Regions from separate parts of the Homo sapiens genome. Here region 1 is linked to region 2. Evidence: fine-mapped expression QTL. A gene starts in region 2. The other region holds a variant in brackets. All regions are shown on one strand. Distances are from middle to middle. Region 1 has its middle 22 kb from the start of TRIM34. Region 2 holds the start of UBQLNL (ubiquilin like).

Region 1 (2,930 bases), 130 kb before region 2:
CCACCACGCCCGGCTAATTTTTTGTATTTTTAGTAGAGATGGGGTTTCTCCGTGTTAGCCAGGATGGTCTCGATCTCCTGACCTCGTGATCCACCTGCCTTGGCCTCCCAAAGTGCTGGGATTACAGGTGTAAGCCACCGCGCCCGGCCCCGAAGCTGTTATTTCTTAATTTATGTTTTCTTTCTTCTTCCTAGAATGTGGATGGCATCATAAAGTGATATATGTGGGAGAACAGAGATTGTCCTTTTGTGTTGTGAGAAAAGATGTGTAGCCATTAGAATTGCCCGGAGTTCAATCAGAATAAAACATCTCCCAGGACAGGAAATTTAGATATAATATTATTGTAAATTTCTGGTCACAATTTAGGGTTTGAGCATTCTAAAACTACCGAGAATAAATCGCATTCTATGGTATAAAATTTGGGTGGTGGAGAGTCACAGAGTGTGTGGATCAATAGTGGTATTAGGGATAAGGTGTTGCAGTATCAGACCCCCGTGACATCACCATTGCATTACCTCCATCTAGCTCTGGTTTTGTATTTAATAGGTGTCTCAGCCGGGCGTGGTGGTTCACGCTTATAATCCCAGCACTTTGGGAGGCCAAGGCAGGTGGATCACGAGGTCAGGAGTTCAAAACCAGCCTGGCCAACGTAGTGAAATCCCCTCTTTACTAAAAATACAAAAATTAGCCAGGCATGGTGGCGTGTGCCTGTAGTCCTAGCTACTCAGGAGGCTGAGGCAGGAGAACTGCTTGAACCCGGGAGGTGGAGGTTGCAGTGAGCCAAGATTGCACCACTGAACTCCAGCTTGGGTAACAGAGTGAGACTTTGTCTCAAAAAAATGATGTCTCATTTGCTATAAGAGAATTATATCTTGTCTGCCAAGCACCCCAAATTTTTCATTCAGACAACTCCTATATATTTATATTTTTCCTGTGGGTATAGAAGAGAACAGATCCTTCCTTGTGATTCTATTTAGATTTAAAAAAAGAGATATGCATTTCTGGAATAGTTTTTTTCCTTGGTGTAAACAATTGATTCATCTCAGTCAGATACTTTAGAAGAGTATGAAAAGGTGACATCTTAGTGTCTAAAACTGTACACCTACTTGACAATATAGAGCTTTTCTAAACACACAAAATTCAGACCACTATTAGTTTGGTATTCATAAAATCCCCTTTGCCAAGTATTGGTAATTTTCCCCAAAAAACATGGAACCTCAGATATTATCTGAGCACTTCTCTAGTGGAAATAGGCTTTGAAGGTCTTAGGCCTCTCCAGACAGGATTCCTCTCCTGATACGTCTCAAACACCCAGGAGCCAGGTCCTGCAACCTCACTGTCTAACCATCTTTCTGGTAACCCACATCCATAGCAATGATGTTTCCACACATTAAATCGTTTTGTTAAGGCACCAAAGTTTTTTTGTTTGTTT[T/G]TTTTAAAATCCATTATTTCTTCATGTCCTATGAGCTCAAGAAGGTAGAGAGGGAGAGATTAATTATTTCATTTTGGAAGGAAGAAACTGTGCTTCTGAGAGGTTAAGACCATCCCATGGTCATACAGAGAGTAAGGGAGAAAGTGGACACGAGTACATTTTGTCTGGTTCTAGGGTCAAGGGTCTGCCCTCTCCCTTCTCAGGGAACAGAGTTCAAGTACATCAGTGGGGTGAAATGATAGGAAATCAGTGGTGTCCAAGGGTTACAAAGTCAGAGGTTTGGGAGTCAATTTTTTTTCATTCCTAGGGGTGAGAATTTGACTTAAGCTAAAAACGTTTCCCAAAGAATAAAGGGAAGTGTGTTGAGCTTCTCATCTAAGAGGAATGCTTCAAGCGTGTAAAGATGAGAAGAGCTAGAACAACTAGATCTGCAGTAGTCTAGTGGTGGCAGGTGCTAGACAGGGAAGAGAGCAGTTTCTAGGCGTAGATGGAAGAGATAAGGGAGGATGGACATTGTGTGCTGATGATGTGGTCATATTTGATGGAGAATAACCAAGAGACTGTTTCATGCTATTATTCGCAAATTCATTGCCCTAACATAGTCCCCTCCTCTTTCTCTGTTCTGGAGAAAAAATTGACGTCAGTGCTGCCTCCTTTGCATATAGTCAATATTATGAATTTTTATCATTTCAGAGTGGACAGACATCCAGTGCTACTGTGGTAAAATGATATTTCCAAAAAAGCTGTGCCTCTGGTGGTTGGAATTCTGGGAAGAAACATGAGGGTGGTTGGTGTATTTGGGGATATGTGTGTGTGTACGTGTGTATATGTATATTTATATAATATACATGTATATTAAAATGTATACATTTATATGTATTATACATATATAATCTAATATATTTATGTGTACTATACATATGTATATATGTATTATATATAATTATAAATTACACATATGTTATAAATACATACACATATTAATATACATTTAATATACATGTTTTATATATCTATATATATATCTATATATATCTATATATAGATATATATATATATATTTTTTTTTTTTTTCCAGAAGACTAGATGAGATGAAGAGAGCAGTTGTCACATCTGGGTAAAAGTCTCATCATCAGGGCAAAGAACAGGTGGGAATGTATCCAGAGAATCAACATACAATGAGCAAAAGTGAAGCTTTTCCTAGACTTGACCCTCATCAAATCTCCTCTGTCCCCACTCTCTTCTGAAGAAGGAAAGGTAGGCCTGTCTTTTTTTCTTCCTGATTGTAGAACTGACCCAAAACATTAGACCTTCAAAAGTACTCTCATTCTATGCACTTGAACACATATAATTTTATAATGTTTACATCATTTTATTATTGTGGTTCTACGGAATTTTCTGCTTCTTCCTGATTGTAAGATTGTTAATTTTAACCTATTCATTTTACAGAGATTTAAAACCTAGCATTGAATTGTATGACAATGTTTCATAATTTTTT
Region 2 (2,930 bases):
GACCCTGAGACCCCAGGGCTAGGCAGAGCATTGGTAGAAGTGTGCCCTCTTCCTTACCTCCAGGAGGACCACATCCCAAAGTGGCCATTGGTCCTAATGATTGGAAGACTGATTATATCTAGTGAGTTCTTTATGTAATTAATATCTCAATCAGTACATTAAGGTTCCCTTTAATAATGGTCTAGGTGGATTTGATAGGGAAAAAGTAAAATATTAGCTAAGAAAATGGTACCCTCTCTTTCTGATGCTTTGGCATCTCATATTCCTTTTTTCATAAATCCAGCTCCCGGAACTCAAGAGTTCTGTGATCTAGAATTGTCAATCTCAGGTTGGGAACACCTGATTCCAGTGCAGAAGCTGCAGGGCAGCTGGTCATTAGAGTAGGATATGAAAGTTCCCTTTCTTATCTCCACCTTCCTGTGAGGTCCCTGGGGAGAAAAGGGGCAAGATCTTGGTCTGGTAATCAATTTTTCATTGTCCTGGATCGATCTCACTTTTGAGTGCAATTGCAAGAGAATAGGCCTGAGTCTTGCTGTAGTAAGTTAGCAACTGGCCTTATAGCATGATGAGGATCTGACATGGATGGTGCTGGGGGTCTAGATATTCTCAATAAAGAATCATTGGTTTGATAGCAGAAGGTCTCCTGGCCAACGGCCTATCATCCCTTTGCTTGTCTTCAACACACTGGGAACATATGGGCTCGAGCTTTTTGCTTGTTCCTTAGCTATCTGTGTGGTGCTCCTCCCTCTCCAGGCAGGTGGATGGAATATATAAAATCCAGACCCTGAAGGCTTCCTAGTAACACAGAATATGCATACAATTTCATATATACATTCGATAAGACATGTACACTCTCACTCATATAAATAATTATTTCCATCTGCATCTAAATAAAAACCAAACACAATTCTCCAAATTTACATGGGACCAAGAATCCAGCTTTTTAGTTGCCTGTATTTGTCCCCTTAAGAATTTTACTACTAACCACCTCCTCTCCCACCTCTTGATTTACAGACGACATTCCCCCTTAATGCTTTGACATAAAGGTGGGCACACAAGAGTGGGTTAGGACATTGAAACAAATCATTCTAAAACTTCTGTTATATTGACATGTAGAAGAGACCAAGTGATATGTGAATAAAAGGCATATTATAAAAAAGAGCTAATTCACATTTAGTTTGGCATGTGCCTATGAAGAGCCTTCCTGGTTAGCCCTACTCCTGCTTCCTAGGACAGAGGAAAATTTTCCCCACCACATGGGAGCACAATTAAATATAGAATCCCAAAATCTAGACTCTATATAAGACCCAAATTTCCAGATCATTAAAAAAATTAATGCGCTCCTTCCTATGGGAGAGACTGCATTCTTATAGGAATGTGGCTTTATCTATGGCTTCAGTAGACCCAACTTTTCATACAAGTCTAACATCCCTATAAGGAACATACACACAGTATCACACGGAAACACACATCCCACATTTAAAAATATGGTTTTTATTTACTTTTTTGTTTTCTTACTAGTTCCATCCAGAGAACTTTGTCCCTGTTTTCTGGAAAATTATTTTATTTTATTGTAGAGCCCTGGACCCCTAAATATGTCCTCCTTCCCCAGCTGGCCCAGGGTGACTGCGAGGATAGAGTTGACATCACAATATCCCTTTTCTGAGGATTCATGCCCCTGGTGGGTGGGGTAGGAGGAGGGGTAGCCCTAGGAGAAGTCATCACCACTTTGTCCACCATGGGTGAATTATGAATCAGTAGCTATGCCAGGCCTCAGCTGGGCCACATCTGGAGAACTGGGGTGAGGGCACAACATCACAAAATATCTGGCCCCAGTCTGGTCACTCATCCCTTTTAGGGCAACAAGGAAACTATCCTGTGGCCTGAGAGCACAATACCTGAGACAAAGGCCAGCAGAAACATTTGTCTGCCCTCACCCTTTCTGCCCCAGCTTCCACCTGCTCCCCATCTGCCCACCCACTAAAGCCCATGTGGCATGCCATCTCTCGAACATCCAGGATGTCCCAGAGTGGATGTCCATCAGGTCTGCTGGCAGACAAAAATATCTCTTCAAGTGCCACTCGAGTGATAGTGAAGACTGCAGGCAACCAGAAAGACTTTATGGTAGCTGATGACATCTCGGTAAGGCAGTTCAAGGAGATGCTATTGGCTCACTTCCAATGCCAGATGGACCAACTAGTGCTGGTCTTCATGGGTTGCCTTCTCAAAGACCATGACACACTGAGCCAGAGGGGCATCATGGATGGCCACACCATCTACTTGGTCATCAAGTCCAAGCAGGGCTCCAGATCTCTAGCCCATTCCTTCCGGGACCTGCCAACGAATGATCCCTGCCACCGGGACAGAAACACCAAAGGAAACAGCAGCAGAGTGCACCAACCAACTGGTATGAATCAAGCTCCAGTGGAACTGGCCCACTTTGTGGGGTCTGATGCACCCAAAGTGCATACCCAAAACTTGGAAGTGAGCCACCCAGAGTGCAAAGCACAGATGCTGGAGAATCCTAGCATCCAGCGGCTTCTGTCCAACATGGAGTTCATGTGGCAGTTCATTTCAGAACATCTAGACACGCAACAATTGATGCAGCAGAACCCAGAAGTTTCCCGCCTTCTTCTTGATAATTCTGAGATCCTATTGCAGACTCTGGAGCTGGCCAGGAACCTTGCTATGATCCAAGAGATAATGCAGATCCAACAACCTTCACAAAACCTTGAGTATCCACTGAACCCACAGCCATATCTGGGCTTAGAGACAATGCCAGGTGGGAATAATGCCCTGGGTCAGAACTATGCTGATATCAATGATCAAATGCTGAACAGCATGCAAGATCCTTTTGGAGGAAACCCTTTCACAGCTCTCCTGGCAGGACAAGTGCTAGAACAAGTCCAGTCTTCACCCCCACCTCCACC

The links. PIP is the estimated chance that this variant, and not a neighbour inherited with it, causes the effect.
Region 1: its variant is the best candidate, but not a certain one, in a credible set for the expression of UBQLNL in lung (TOPMed, PIP 0.68).

What each region holds. Positions count from the first base shown.
Region 1 is chr11:5,645,444-5,648,373 of GRCh38, reverse strand. It overlaps a transcript of TRIM5 not described here. Among named protein-coding and RNA genes, the nearest start is that of TRIM34, 22 kb to the right of the region's middle. The variant T/G (reference allele first, on the strand shown) is at 1,433.
Region 2 is chr11:5,515,501-5,518,430 of GRCh38, reverse strand. UBQLNL (ubiquilin like) reads left to right here and starts at 1,732. Exons shown (of 1, transcript NM_145053.5): 1 at 1,732-2,930. The coding sequence starts at 1,990. It also overlaps the pseudogene OLFM5P.